Regions from separate parts of the Homo sapiens genome. Here region 1 is linked to region 2. Evidence: fine-mapped expression QTL. Tissue or cell type: anterior cingulate cortex. Region 2 holds a variant in brackets; the other region holds the start of a gene. All regions are shown on one strand. Distances are between the middles of the regions.

Region 1 (8,103 bases), 57 kb before region 2:
AAATTCAGGTTGCTCTCCTTACAAACAGCGTTGTTCTCTTTCCCTTTTCTCTGGGAGGTACCAGTGCAGGTTTTAAAACCTCTGCTCTCCTGGGTAGGCTCAATGTTTGAGTGCTCTTTCTCACATTCATCTTGCAAGTAGGAGCGGTGGTGAACGCTGCCTTCCGCACTAGGTGGAAGGCTTACTCGTCTAAGGAATTCTTTTTCTTTCTTTTGAGAGAGGGTCTTGCTCTGTCACGCCAGCTGGAGTACAGTGGCACGATCTCAGCTCACTGCATCCTCAACCTCCCCTAGCTCAAGCTGATTCTCCCACCTCAGCCTCCCCAGTAGTTGGGGACTACCGGCATGCCACCACACCTGGCATTATTATTACTATTGTAGAAACAAGGTCTCACTATGTTGACCAGGATGGTCTGGAACGCCTAGGCTCAAGCGATCCTCCCTCCTCAGCCTCCCAAAGTGTGGGAATTATAGGCCACTGTGCCTGGGTACGGATTTTTCCTTTTCTTTCCCGTCATACTCTTATATAGCCTGGGAAAAGAGGGGTGGCATTGCGTCAGTGGTTAATAGTAACAGCAAATTCAGAATTCAGCACCCAGCTTCCTTTGATAAGACCTGAGAGGTTCTCACCCCAAATGTTTTCATCTTTCCTTAGAATGCAGAACTTAATCCTCAACTCTTGAGACCTGGTTACCAATTCTGGGACAGTAGGAAAAATTCCTCTTATTCTCTCATAGTAATAAGTGACTCCACTGCTGTTACTAAGCCAATGGCTCTCATCACACTCAAAATCCACACCCCTCATCACAACCTCCAAAGCCTTGTTCCATCAAGTCCCAGTCTACCTGCCCTACCTCTGCTCTGCTCACTCTCTTATCCCTCACTCTGCTAAGGTACATTAGGCATCTATCTGTTCCTAAGCACACCAAGCTTGTTCCCATCTGACAGCTTTTGCACCTTCAGTTTCTTCAGCCTGGAATTCTTTTCCCCTTATGCACCTGCAGTTGTTTTGTTGTTGTTGGGCTTTTTTTTTTTTGAGACAGAGTCTCCATCTCTCACCCAGGTTGGAGTGCAGTGGTGCAATCTTGGCTCACTGCAACCCCCACCTCCCAGGTTCAAGCGATTCCCCTGCTACAGCCTCCCAAGTAGCTGTGAGTACAGGCGCACGCCACCACACCCTGCTAATTTTTGTATGTTTAGTAGAGATGGGGTTTTACTATGTTGGCCAGGCTGGTCTCGAACTCCTGACCTCAAGTGATCTGCCCCCCTCAGCCTCCCAAAGTGCTGGGATTACAGGCGTGAGCCACCATGCCCAGCCTGCAGTTGCCTTAAGTTGCAGCTACTAAGTCACTTGCCTCAGAGAGGCCTCCCGGTCCACTCTAATTCATACTTGTGAATTATGCATTCTGCTAATTCCAGACCACTATATTCACAAAGCAGTGATAGAAAGCATTCATTAATTTTTATATATATTTTTTGAGACAGTCTCGCTTTGTCGCCCAGGTCGGAGTGCTGTGGTGAAATCACAGCCCACCACAACCTCTGCTTCCCGGGTTCAAACGATCTTCCCACCTCAGCCTCCCAAGTAGCTGGGACCACAGGCGCACACTATTGCAACCAGTTAATGTTTGTATTTTTTGTAGAGACAGGGTTTTGCCATGTTGCCCAAGCTGGTCTTTTAATTCCTGGGCTCCTCCCTCCTCAGCCTCCCTGTGCTATTGACGTGTTATTTCATTACTTGTTAGCCCCTTGCGCAGGATTTTGTGTTTGGGACAAGCCAACAGTGATGGAAATTTTCTCCCTTTTTTGTTTTGTTTTTTTTGAGATGGAGTTTTGCTGTTGTTGCCCAGGTTGGAGTGCAATGGTGCAATCTCGGCTCACCACAACCTCTGCCTCCCAGATTCAAGCGATTCTCCTGCCTCAGCTTTCTGAGTAGCTGGGATTACAGGCATGCGCCACCAAGCCTGGCTAATTTTGTATTTTTAGTAGAGACGAGCTATCTCCATGTTGGTCAGGCTGGTCTCGAACTCCTGACCTCAGGTGATCCGCCAGCCTCAGCCTCCCAAAGTGCTGGGATCACAGGCTTGAGCCACCGCACCCGGCATAAAGCATTTATTTTTGAATGTTCATATTTTTGATAAAGCAGTGTGACATCAGGAACATTTCGTTGCAGTCATTTTCTACCATGTTGGTATGCAATGCTCTAATGTTAAGAAATCAAGCTGAAATCTAGGAAATGTAGCCTGAATGTCTGTGATATATAAGACATAATTACATAAACGTAATAGCTGTATCTAAAAGTTGACCTATCTTTGTGTTGAAAATTTCCATCGGGCCGGGCGCGGTTGCCCATGCCTGTAATCCCAGCACTTTGGGAGGCCGAGGCGAGTTCGAGACCAGCATGACCAACATGGAGAAAACCTGTCTCTACTAAATATACAAAATTAGACGGGCCTGGTGACGCATCGCATGCCTGTAATCCCAGCTACTCGGGAGGCTGAGGCGGGAGAATCGCTTGAACCCAGGAGGCGGAGGCTGCGGTGAGCCAAAATCGCGCCATTGCACTCCAACCTAGGCAACAAGAGCGAAACTGTGTCTCAAAAAAAAAAAAGAAAATTTCCATCATTGTTTGCTTGTCCCAAACAAAATCCTGCGTAAGGGGATACGAAGTAATGAAATAACACGGCAGTAGATCTGCCTTTGCACATTGCTCAGGAGGCCACGGATTTGTCCGAAGTTTCTTTTTTCTCTAAAATGAGAAATGGAAAATTGCCTTTTGAAGAAGATGTAAATGCCCCACCCTCTGACGCTGTCTCACTCCCTTCCTGTGTCACTCTTACCGCTGAAGTCAGGACCTGACATTATCTTGTTGACATGTTTGCGTTTTTATCGTCAGCCTCGTCGAAAGGGGCGTACGATTGCTCCCCGAAACCAGGGTCTTTCCCGGCCGATTCCCCAGCTAGCAACAAGCCCCTTGCAAAGAGGAGGCGGACAGTGACTGGAATACAGGGACACGCACACTCGAGCCACACTGGCCGCCTCCCTCGGCCCTCGCAAGGGTCCCTAACGCGCCTTCGGAAGCCGCCTAGGCGGGGCCTGCGCGCGCGGGCCTCTGGGAAGTGTAGTTCGCGCGCCCGGCGTGGACCCGGGGTTGCAGGAGCGAGGCTCCGAGTGCGCAGGCGCACTTCCAGTTCTGCCCCACCGCTGCGGCCATTGTCCGACCCCGGTGCGGCTGAGGCCCCTTTGGGCAGCCCCTCCGCAGATCAGAATTGGAGATAACCGAGGCTTCGGCGGGGGCGGGAGGAGCTGCCCGAGGCTCTGGGTGGGCCGGAGGTCGCGAAATCCGGAGCCCCCCAGAGGCGGTGATTCTGAGTGCGCGGGTCTGGGCGGGACCCCTCCTGGGTTTGGCGGGTGTCAGCCGGGCCTCGCCCACCACCCTGCGAAGGGGACTGGGCGTGGCCGGAGGGGGGTGTCCGGGAGGCCGCTGAGCCTTTCATTTCGGGGATGGGGAGCGGCAGGCCCGGGCTGGTTCCACGGTCCTCGCCACCATCTCCCCTGGAGATGTGGTTTAGGGGCGGAGGTGGGGCGGGGCGGGGCGGGGTGGGGTCGGTGTTGCAGCGGGGTGAGTGGGCCCTGTCCTTTCTCCCCAGCTCCTGCCCCGGAGCCGGGCCCTGGCGAGGCAGGAATGGCCCCGAGGCCTCCGACCGCCGCGCCCCAGGTGAGCAACGCGTTCCTAACCTCCTGGGCATCCCATCCATCTATCCATCCCATCTCCCAAGGGTGTTTGGAGCAGTCATTGTTCTCTGCCTGGCGACTCCCTTACTTGCTTGGCTCGATCGGAGCCTCCTGGCCATGGAAAACCCCAGGCTTTGGGGAGCTGGATTCCCAAAGGGGAGGCTGCTCTGTGGGGTAGAGAGGGCCAGTGTGGTGCGATCTTGTGGGAGGAGTTGAGATTGGATGCGTTGGGAAGTGTCAGTTTTGAGAGTCCTGAATGCCACGCCAGTTTTTTGAACTCTTGTCAATAAGAAATGGAGAGAGTGGGGTCACAGGATGGAACACTGTAGAGGAGGAAGTGACTGTCGGCAAGTGTGGAGAGAGGAGCCCCAGCTTCTGACCCAGGGCCCATAGAGAGTCCGTAAGGGGCCGTAGAAGCCTGGTTAGAACATGTCTAGGAAGAGGCTGGAGATGGGCTTTCTTGGGCAAGGAGGCAAAAACAAAACAAAATAAAAAACAACCAAAAATAAAACCAGGGCTGATTCTCCCAGAGCTTTTTGTGTCTGTCCTTTTCTGCTTTAACAAAAATGTAATAGAGCAACTCACTCCCCACCGCCAGAAGTCCAGCCTTCACCTTAATGTGAGGCTGATTCGTGAACCCATTTATTCTTGTGGCAGAGGGGGCATTTTCTAGAAGCGTCACAACTCTAAGGTTATCCATTGATTTACATATTGGTGAAAATACATCAAGATCCAGATGGTATCTGTATCTTTGAATCTACATTCTCTTTAGAATTAAGGGAAAATGACAGATTGTAGTTGCTAGGTGTGTGAGACATCAAGATCAATTCAAATAAAAATACCAAGTTGCCAGGTACAGTGGGTCACACCTGTAAGTCCAGCACTTTGGGAAGCTGAGGCAATAGGATCGTTTAAGCCCAGGAATTTGAGACCAGCCTGGGCAACATAGTGAGACTCCGTCTCTGCAAAAAAAAAAAAAAAAAAAAAATTTAAAAGATAAAAACACCAACTTAGTAATGTCCTTTAAAAGAGCAGTTTATAGTGAATTAAGCATACAATACATCATGCCTTTTTTTTTTTTTTTTTTGAAACAGGGTCTCTTGTCACCCAGTCTGGAGTACAGTGACATGATCTTGGCTCACTGCAACCTCTGCCATGGTGCACGCCACCATGCCCGGCTAATTTTTGTATTTTTTGGTTTATTTTATTTTTTGAGACAGTCTCATTCTGTCACCCAGGCTGAAGTGTAGTGGCATGATCTCGGCTCACTGCAACCTCCACCTCCTGGGTTCAAGTGATTCTCCTGCCTCAACCTCCCTAGTAGCTGGGATTAACAGGTGTACACCACCACACCCGGCTAATTTTTTTGTATTTTAGTAGAGTCAGGGTTTTACCATGTTGGCCAGTCTGGTCTCGAACTCCTGACGTCAATTGATCCGCCCACGTTGGCCTCCCAAGGTGCTGGGATTACAGATGTGAGCCACCACGCCTGGCCTAATTTTTGTTTTTTTTTGTAAAGATGGGGTTTCTCCAGGCTGGATTTGAATTCCTAAGCTCAAGTGATGTGCTCGCTTCAGCCTCCCAAAGTGTTGGGATTACAGGTGTGAGCCACCACAGCTGGGCATGTGCCACCATGCCCAGCTAATTTTTGTATTTTTAGTAAAGATGGGGTTTCACCATGTTGGCCAGGATGGTCTCGATCTCCTGACCTCCCAAAGTTCTGGGATTACAGGCGTGAGCCACCGGGCCCGGCCTGCGTTTTTATATATATATATACTTCTTATTATATGTTTCTGTTTTTACAGGGATGAGCCTTAAGGAGTAAGACACCTGCCAATACTAAAACAAGACAGTTACTTGGTTTGAGGAGAGCCAGAGCACATCATGATCGTTATCCCCTTTACATGCAAAGTATCCTCCATAGGCTTGTGAGAATTAGATGACTTAACACCTCATCAGGGACTCTGGTCTTTTCCATAGTGGGAGGATACCTTTTTAGTGGTGAAAGTGGATTCATGTTCTGAGCAGTGAATTTTAAGGACCACTGTAAACTTGACTTTTCAAGCTATGTTCCCTGAACGCCCTGGCTCAGTTGCATTCTCATTGAATGGCCTGATGATGTCCATGTGGGTTATCTAACTCAGGCTGCAGATAACCAGGGATGAAGGACAGAACAGAACACTGGTCCTAAACGGGGCTTTTCAGGCAGAAATTTCCCTTTAGCAGTGGTTCCCTGAGCATGACCCTCAGGGGAATGCAAAGATTAGTAATGAGTCCTGTGACTGCTTAACTGTAAAGTTAATTTAGTGGGAGCAGACAGTCTCCTGCAGAAGTAGAGCGCAAGAGAGCTGGTGTCAAGTGTTGTTGCGGAGGTCCAGAGGCTGCTTGGAGTTGAGAGGGACCAGGACATTCTGCCGGTGGGAAGAAGTCAGTGGAGTTTTCACCTTTGAATAGGAGCAGAGTCTAAGCAGGTGAAAACAAAAGGGGACTGTAATCCCAGCACTTTGGGAGGCGGAGGCAAGCGGATCACTTGAGGTCAGGAGTTCGAGACCAGCCTGGCCAACATGGTGAAACCCTGTTTCCACTAAAAATACAAAAATTAGCTAGCCATGGTGACGGGCGCCTGTAGTCCCAGCTACTAGGGAGGCTGAGGCAGGAGAATCGCTTGAACCTGGGAGGTGGAGGTTGCAGTGAACCGAGATCCTGCCACTGCACTCCAGCCTGGGTGACAGAGTGAGACTCCATCTCAAAAAAACCAACCCCAAAAAACAAAAGGGAGAGGGTAGAGCTGATTGATTTGGTGAATCGGGAGTTGGGAGGCAAGAAGATGGCGGTGCATGTTCATTAAAGCATTTTCTTTGTAACACCAGCTGTGGGCTGCTGGCAGTGGGTAGAGGAGAATAGAAGGAGTTTGGACTTGTTCTTTTTGGCCTTGTAACTCGTTCATTCATCATTCATTCATCTACTCATTCACCAGGTAGTCATTGAGCCCTATGATGTGTCAGGCACTTTTCTAGGCAGTTGGGATAACTTCAGTGAACAAAATTAGGACCCTGCTCTCAAGGAGCTTACATTCTAGAGAGGACAGACAGAAGAATTCAGTAAATAAATAAATTGTATGGTATCCTAGAAGGCAGTAGTATCTCAAGAGGGAAAAAAGGTAGAGAAAGGTAAGGGGGTCTGAGTGGGGAGGTGGGAGGTTTGTAGTCGGGGTGCAATTTAAAATGATGTGGTCAGGGTAAGCCTTATCCTTATTGAGATGGTGACACCTGAGCAGACTTGAAGGCGATGAGGGAGTAGATGTGTAGGGGAAGAGTGCTCTGGGCAGAGGGAACAGCCTAGCGGCAAGATGTATGTCTGGTGTATTCAAGGAGCAGCAAAGAGGCCAGTGTAGCTTGAGCTGGTGATTTGGGGCAGGGAACTAATACAACTTCATAGATTTTTTAAAAGATTGCCATGAATGATGAATCCTAGGATAAAAAGTTTGATATTATATTTGATAATAGTTCCTTTAGAGAGGTGTTTTGATGAGTGGGACCTTTCCCCTGAACATAGTTAACAAATTCCTGAACTGGCTCCACCTGAAGCGGGATGGGACTAGGAGCAGAGATGGAGGAGCCGGGATACCCATTTAGAATGTTTACGTAGATATAGCTGTGTATTTATAGGATTGTTAGTAGCAATGTCTATGTAAACATTATACATCCTTATTTGCCTTTTTTTCTTTTTTTTTTTTTGAGACAGAGTCTTGCTCTGTCGCCAGGCTAGAGTGCAGTGGCGTGATCTTGGCTCACCGCAACCTCTGCCTCCCTGATTCAAGCTATTTTCCTGCCTCAGTCTCCCGAGTAGCTGGGATTACAGGCATGTGTCACCACGCCCAGCTAATTTTTGTATTTTTGGTACAGACAGGGTTTCACCATGTTGACCAGGATGGTCTCGATCTCCTGACCTCATGATCTGCCTGTCTCAGCCTCCCAAAGTGCTGGGATTATAGGCGTGAGCCACTGTGTCTGGCCTGCCCTTTTTTTTTTTTTTTTCGAGGTAGAGTCTTGCTCTATCAGTGTGCAGTGTGCAATGTTGTCTCGCTGCAACCTCTGCCTCCCAGGTTCAAGCAATTCTCCTGCCTCAGCCTCCCAAGTAGCTGGGATTACAGGTGTGCACCACCACGCCCGGCTAATTTTTTGTATTTTTACTAGAGATGGGGTTTCACTATGTTGGCCAGACTGGTCTTGAACTCCTGACCTCAAGTGATCCACCCACCTTGGCCTCCCAAAATGCTGGGATTACAGGTGTGAGCCACCACACTGGCTGGCCTCTTTTTCATAACATGTGTACTACATTTTTAGTTAGGAAACAAAAAAGGCATTTG
Region 2 (8,103 bases):
GATGAGGGTTAAGAGAGCTAAGTGAAAGAAGTGACAAGACCTAGAGTCATAGGATATATTAATATTTTTAAAGAGAGTTTTGATTCTCCCACCAACAGTCTAGAACTGGGGGCATTCACAGTTTGTCTCCAGAGAGGGCAGAAGGCTGGCGGGAGGAGTGAGCAATCCACCAGCACTGCCATTTGGGTAATAATTGAGCATTTTCTTTTTCTTTTTTCTTTCTTTTTTTTTTTTGAGATGAAGTCTCACTTTGTCGCCCAGGCTGGAGTGCAGTGGCATGATCTCGGCTCACTGCAACCTCCGCCTCCTGGGTTCAAGAAATTCTCCTGCCTCAGCCACCCAAGTAGCTGGGATTACAGGTGTGTGCCACTATGCCCAGCTAATTTTTTTTGTATTTTTAGTAGAGACGGGGTTTCGCCATGTTGGCCAGGCTGGTCTTGAACCCCTGACCTCAGGTGACCCGCCTGCTTTGGACTGCCAAAATGCTGGGATTACAGGTGTGAGACACCATGCCCAGGGGGAACTGTAAATTAAAACAACGAGTTGAGGCACCCGACCTTCAACTGTCATGTTATGAGAACACTCAAGTAGCCCTATGAAGAGGTATAACAGGATTGAGGCCTTCTGCAAACAGCTAGCACCAACTTGCCAGCCATGTAAGTGAACCATCTTGAAAGTGATTGTGCAGCCCCAGTAAAGCCTTCAGATGACTGCAGTCCCAGCAACATCTTTTTTTTTTGTTTGAGATGGAGTCTCGCTCTGTCGCCCAGGCTGGAGTGCAGTGGCACGATCTCCGCTCACTGCAAGCTCCGCCTCCCGGGTTCACACCATTCTCCTGCCTCAGCCTCCTGAGTAGCTGGGACTACAGGCACCCGCCACCATGCCCGGCTAATTTTTTTGTATTTTTAGTAGAGACAGGGTTTCATCCTGTTAGCCAGGATGGTCTCGATCTCCTGACCTCGTGATCCACCTGCCTCGGCCTCCCAAAGTGCTGGGATTACAGGCATAAGCCACCATGCCCGGCCTCCAGCAACATCTTAACCATAACCTTGTCAGAGACCCCAAGCCAAAACCACTCAGTCAAGCCACTTGCAAATTTTTTATCCATAGAAACTATGTGAGATAATAAATGTCTGTTTTTAAGCCATTACCTTTTGGGATCATTTGTTATGCAGCAACAGATCACTGTTCTATTTGCTTTTTTCATTCCGCTTATAGATTCTATCCAAGTTTCTCTGTGTTTGTTTAGTTCAGAAGTCATCAGAGTTTTACTATAAAGGGCTAGATAGTAGATATTTCAAGTTAAAATTTGAATTCATGTAATTTTCATGGTCACAAGCTATCCTTTTGATTTTTCTCCAACCAGGTTCTAGTGATCTAGTATACAGCATGGTGATAGTTAATAATAATATATATTTCAAAAAAGCTAAAAGAACAGATCTTAAATGTTCTCATCGCAAAGAAACAGTAAGTATATGAGGTGATAAGTATGTTAATTAGCCTGATTTGATCATTCCATAATGTATACAGGTACTGAAACATCATTTCATACCCCACAGATATACACAATTATTATTTGTCAGTTAAAAATAAAACTGAATGGCCCCACTCAGTGGCGCATGCCTGTAATCCCAACTCTTTGGGAAACCAAGGCAGGCAGATCACTTGTGCCCAGGAGTCTGAGAACAGCCTGGGCAATATGGCAAAACCCTACCTCTAATAAAATAAATAAATAAAATAGGCTGGGTGCGGTGGCTCATTTCCTATAATCCCAGCACTTTGGGAGGCCGAGGCGGGCAAATCGCTTGAGTTCAAGACCAGCTGGGCCAACTCGGTGAAACCCCGTCTCTACTAAAAATACAAAAATTAACTGGATGTGGTGGCATGCACCTGTAATCCCAGCTACTTGGGAGGCTGAGACAGGATAATCACTTGAACCAGGGAGGTGGAGGTTGCAGTGAGCCAAGATCGCACCACTGCACTCCAGCTTGGGTGACGGAGTGAGACTCTGTCTCAAAAGAAAAAAAAAAGCTGGACGTGGCGGCTCATGCCTGTAATCCCAGCACTTTGGGAGGCCGAGACGGGTGGATCACGAGGTCAGGAGATCGAGACCATCTTGGCCAACATGGTGAAACCCCATCTCTACTAAAATATAAAAAATTAGCCGGGCATGGTGGCGCATGCCTGTAGTCCCAGCTACTGGGGAGGCTGAGGCAGGAGAATCGCTTGAACCCAGGAGCCAGAGGTTGCAGTGAGCTGATATGGCACCATTGCACTCCAGCCTAGCGACAGAGCAAAACTCTGTCTCAAAAAAAAAAAAAAAAGAAAGAAAGAAATGAAAACGTGTCTACACAAAAACTTCATAGCAGCACTATTCATAGTAGCCCCAAAATAGGGAAAAAAGCCCACAGATGTCTATCAACTGATGAATGGATACATAAAATGTGGCATATTCAACTATAAAAAAAATTAAATGTTTATATATGCTACAAAATAGACAAGACTTGCAAGCATTATCCTAAATGAAAAAAGTCAGTCAAAAGACAACACATTATATGATTTCATTTCTATGAAATGTCCAGAATAAGCACATCTATAGAGATAGAAAGTAGATGAGTACTTGCCTGGGGCTCCGGGGCCTGAGAAGACTGGAGGGTGAGAGCTCCTGAGTAGGGTTTTGGCCGGGCGCAGCTCACACCTGAAATTGCAGCATTTTGGGAGGCTGAGGCAGAGGATCCCTTGAATTCAGGAGTTGAAGACCAATCTAGGCAACAAAATTAGACTCCATCTCTAAAAAATAAAATAAAGAGTATGGTTTTGTTTTTCGTTTTAGTTTTTTTGTTTGTTTTTTTGAGTCGTCTTGCTCTGTCGCCCAAGTTAGAGTACAGGGGTAGGATCATGGCTCACTGCAGCTTCAAACTCCCGGGCTCAAGCGATCGTCCTGCCTCAGCCTCATGAATAGCTGGGACTACAGGTTTGTGTCACCACACCCAGCTAAGGTTCTTTTTGGGTTTTCTTGTTTTTAATGTTGCCTACGCTGGTCTTGAACTCCCAGACTTAAGCAATCCTCCCTCATCGCTGAGACTACAGGCGGGAGCCATTGCTCCTGGCAAGAGTACAGATTTCTTCTTGGGATGATGAAAATGTTCTAAAACTGATTGTGATCATGGTTGTGCAACTCTGTGAATAGACTAAAACCTGCTGAAGCACACATTTAAAATGGGCGAATCGTGTGGTATGTGAATTACATCTCGATAGACATTTTAAAAAACAAGGGAAGGTGTGCCACAGTTTGTTCATCACTGACAGCACTGTAGGTGCTTAGCCTTTTTCAAAGCACCTTTCCTAGAACTGTTGCAACCAGCCAAGCATTAACTCCTTACATAGCTGAGCAAGACAAGGCTCAAAGGAAGAACTAATTTGCGCAAGGTCACAGGTGACCAATGTGAGGTGTGAGCAGAATGCAGGTCTTTGGACTCCATGTCCAGTGCTCAGCCCAGCACAGCCTTTCTAAGAGTTACATCCAGAGATTGGGTAATCATGGCCTCAAAGCTCCAGGGCAGAGAAAATGACAGGAGGGGAC[G/A]AATCCCTCTACCTGTCCCACCTGCTGCCTCTGCCACACCCACCAGCCATTCCAATGACAGCTTTCTCCTCCTCGCCCCATGCTCCCCACCTTCCTTTTCTCTGCCTTCCTTCCCAGCACTGCTAAGCAAAGCTGTCACTCCCTGTGTCTTGCTTAGCAGTGCTAGGAAGGAAAGGAGGAAAAGGACTGGAAGCCTTTTCCAGAAATTTAGTCCACATGACATATATGGGAAAGGGCTCACACAGGGTGAGGAATCAATCCAAGGCCACACAGCTGGCAATTTGACCTTGATTTCCTTAATATCTTTGAGAATGAAAGGAGAGGGGTTTGGGGCTGGAGTAGGGCTTGAGGTGAGCAAAACCCCATCCCATTCCTGACTCTTTTCTCATAGCGTCCCCCTCCACAGCTTCCCCCAACTTTCATATATCCAGAGCCGCTACTGTGAAGGTGACTGGGGTAGATCTCTTAAAATTAATTGCAGAAAAACCAGAAAGAATCTTTTTTTTTTTTTTTTTTTGAGACGGAGTCTCGCTCTGTCACCCAGGCTGGAGTGCAGTGGCGTGATCTCAGCTCACTGCAACCTCCACCTTCCGGGTTCACACCATTCTCCTGCCTCAGAGTCCTGAGTAGCTGGGACTACAGGTGCCCGCCACCACGCCCAGCTAATTTTTTTTTGGTATTTTTAGTAGAGACGGGGTTTCACTGTGTTAGCCAGGATGGTCTCGATCTCCTGACCTTGTGATCCGCCCGCCTCAGCCTCCCAAAGTACTGGGATTACAAGCATGAGCCACCGTGCCCGGCCAAAAATATCTTTATATCTGGTCTTAAACTCCTGACCTCAGGCAATCTGCCCGGCTTGGCCTCCCAAAGTGCTGGGATTACAAGCATGAGCCACCGCACCTGGCCATTTCTTTCTTTTTTTTTTTTTTATTTGAGGCAGAGTCTGTCTCAGGCTGTCTATCACCCAGGCTGCTGTGCAGTGGCGCAGTCTTGGCTCACTGCAACCTCTGCCGCCTGAGTTTAAGCGATTCTCCTGCCTCAGCCTCCGGAGTAGCTGGGACTACAGGCACGTGCCACCACACCTGGCTGATTTTTTTTGTATTTTTAGTAGAGACAGGGTTTCACCATGTTAGCCAGGATGGTCTTGATCTCCTGACCTCGTAATATGCCCGCCTCGGCCTCCCAAAGTGTTGGAATTACAGGCGTGAGCCACCACACCCGGCCAAGGCCATTTCTTTTAGGTATATATTTAGGAATGAAAATTCTGGGTCGAATAGTAATTATGTTTAACATTTTGAGGGTACACTTGTTTTTACACATTCCAGGAGCTAAAAATGGTTTTTACATTTTTAAATGGTTGGGGAAAAAAAAAAACGAGAATAATATTTTGTGACACATGAAAATTACATCGAATTCAAATGTCAATGTACACCAAGCTTCATTGGATGGCTGAATTCATTCGCTGATGGATTATCTATGGACGCTTTTGCACTACAATGGCAGAGCTGGGTAGTGTGACAGAGACCATATGTCCTGCAAAGCCCAAAATATGTACTACCTGGCCTTTGATAGAAAAGGCTTACCAGGCCGGGCACGGTGGCTCACACCTGTAATCCCAGCACTTTTGGGAGGCTGAGGCGGGTAGATCACCTGAGGTCAGGAGTTCGAGACCAGCCTGGCCAACATGGTGAAACCCCATCTCTACTAAAAATACAAAAATTAGCCAGGCATGGTGGCACGTGCCTATAATCCCAGCTACTCGGGAGGCTGAGGCAGGAGAATCGCTTGAACCCAGAATGGGGAGGTTGCAGTGACCTGAAATCACACCACTGCACTCCAGCCTGGGTGACAGAGCAAGACAACATCTCAAAAAAAAGAAAAGAAAAGAAAAGAAAAAGCTTACCAACCCCTGAACTATGTTTTGGTATTATTAGTTTTTGTTTGCCGCTTGCTAGGGGCAGCTTGGGTGTGCACTGCCTCCAGTTGAGTGGTAGCAGGACCCAGGTCACCAGCCCTTCTCTGCAGGTCCTGGTCTGATAGTATAAAGAAATGAGGCCAGGCGCAGTGGCTCACGCCTATAATCCCAGCACTTTGGGAGGCCGAAGAGGGCGGATCACTTGAGGTCAGGAGTTCGAGACCAGCCTGGCCAATGTGGTGAAACCCTGTCTCTACTAAAAATACAAAAATTAGCCTGGTGTGGTGGTGCGCTCCTGTAGTCCCAGCTACTCGGGAGGCTGAGGGAGGAGAATCGCTTGAACCCAGGAGGCGGAGGTTGCAGTGAGCTGAGATCACACCACTGCACTCCAGCCTGGGCGACAGAGTGAGACTCTGTCTCAAAAAAAAAAGAGAGAGAAATGATAGCTGGCCAGGCATGGTGACTCATGCCTGTAATCCCAGCACTTTGGGAGGCCAAAGCGGGTGAACTGCTTGAGCTGGAGTTGGAAACCAGCCTGGGGAACATAGCAAAACCCCATCTCTACACAAAAAAAAAAAAAAAAAAAAAAAAAAAAAAATTAGCCGGGCATGATAGTGTGCACCTGTAGTCCCAGCTCACACCTCACACTGGAGAGGCTGAGGCAGGAGGATAGGTTGAGCCTGGGAGGCAAAGGTTGCAATGAGCTGAGACTGTGCCACTGCACTCCAGCCTGGGCATTAGAGCAAGACCCTATCTCAAAAAAATTAAAAACAAACAAACAAAAAAAAAAACGAAGAAATGAGAGCTCACATCTGGCCCCATTTTCTGCATGGAGAAACTGAGTCCTGTGGGGGCTGCTCAGGCTCATGCGAACTTGAGGGTAAGTGAGAGCTTAGCTTTCTTCTACTCCCAGGCAGCCTCCTCTCTCCCAGTTAAGAAGACCTGGCCATGAATAATTCATGGCTGGCATTTGCAGAACTCTCCTTCTTGTCAGAGCACTTTGATTATCATTAATTAGTCAGAACCTGGCTCCACTGTTGCCCAATAAAACAAAAACAGAAGTGGCTTTGATGCTCTAGGAGCTTCCATCTCCACACCAAGACTTTGACCTGCAGATTCCTCCTCTCTGCCCATTGTTCCATCACCTCTCAAAGCCTGAAAGCCTATTGTTTTGGCTCAAAAGTCAGGCTTCCCACAGGAAATGAGGCAGTCTCAGACTTGAAGCCCCGACCCTTATAGCTGGTGTCATCTCCTCTCTGCCATCATTGTCCTCGTCTGAAAGATTACAGCAATGATGCCTATCTCTGGGGTTGTTATGAAGATTATTGTTGTGAGTTTATGTTTATAAAAGTGTCCTAAGCTAAGCGTGGTGACTCACACCTGTAATCCTAACACTTTGGGAGGCCAAGGTGGGAGTAGCCCTTGAGCCCGGAGTTCAAGACCAGCCTGGGTAACATAGTAAGACCTCATCTTTACAAAAAATCAAAAAATTAGCTGGGTGTGGTGGCTCCTACCTGTGGTCCCAGCTACTGGGGAGGCTGAGGTGGGAGATCATTTGAGCCCAGGAGACTGAGGCTGCAGCGAGCTATGATTGAGCCATTGCACTCCAGCCTGGGTACACAGTGAGACTCTGTCTCAAAAAAAAAAAAAAAAAAAAGAAGAGGTGTTCTGAAGAGAACTGCATACACTGCTTATGGGAATACAAAATGGTGTAGATGCTTTGGAAATCATTCTGGCAGTTCTCCACATGGTTAAGGATACCGTACAACCCAGCAATTCCACACCTAGGTATCTACCCAAGAGAAATGAAGCACGTGTCCACACAGAAACTTGTACACAAGTGTTCACAGCAACATTATTCATAACAGCCAAAAAGTCGAAACAACCCATATGCCCCTCAACTAATGAATGGACAAATATTAATAAAACATCTAGATCTATACAATGGAATATTGTTTGGCCATAAAAAGTAATGAAGCACTGATCCATGCTACGACATGGATGAACCTTGGAAACATTAAGAAAAAGAAGCCAAGGCTGGGCGTGGTGGCTCCCGCCTGTAATCCCAGCACTTTGGGAGGCCGAGGAGGGCGGATCACGAGGTCAGGCGATCGAGACCATCCTGGCTAACACAGTGAAACCCTGTCTCTACTAAAAATACAAAGTTAGCAGGGTGTGGTGGCAGGCGCCTGTAGTCCGGGCTACTCGGGAGGCTAAGGCAGGAGAATGGCGTGAACCCAGGAGGCGGAGGTTGCAGTGAACCGAGATCAGGCCACTGCACTCCAGCCTGGGTGACAGAGCAAGACTCCGTCTCAAAAAAAAAAAAAAAAAAGAAAAAGAAGCCAGCTGGGTGTGGTGGGTCATGGCTGTAATCTCAGCAGTTTAGGAGGCTGAGATGGGAGGATTGCTTGAACCCAGGAGTTTGAGACCAACCTGGGCAACACAGCAAGACCTCATCTCAAAAAAAAAAAAAAAAAAAGAAGAAAGAAGAAAGAAAAAAAAAGAGAAGCCAAATGCAAAAGGCCACATATTATATGATTCTTACTTACATGAAATGTTCAGAATAAGCAAATCCATAGAAAGAGAATATAAATTAGTGGTTCCC

The links. PIP is the estimated chance that this variant, and not a neighbour inherited with it, causes the effect.
Region 1: ZFP90 starts here. The variant in region 2 is fine-mapped to the expression of ZFP90 in anterior cingulate cortex (GTEx, PIP 0.97).

The regions. Positions count from the first base shown.
Region 1 is chr16:68,536,109-68,544,211 of GRCh38, forward strand. It overlaps ZFP90 (ZFP90 zinc finger protein), which reads left to right and starts at 3,183. Exons shown (of 5, transcript NM_001305203.2): 1 at 3,183-3,371; 2 at 3,650-3,717. The coding sequence starts at 3,685.
Region 2 is chr16:68,593,279-68,601,381 of GRCh38, forward strand. No RefSeq gene overlaps it. Among named protein-coding and RNA genes, the nearest start is that of CDH3, 48 kb to the right of the region's middle. The variant G/A (reference allele first, on the strand shown) is at 3,584.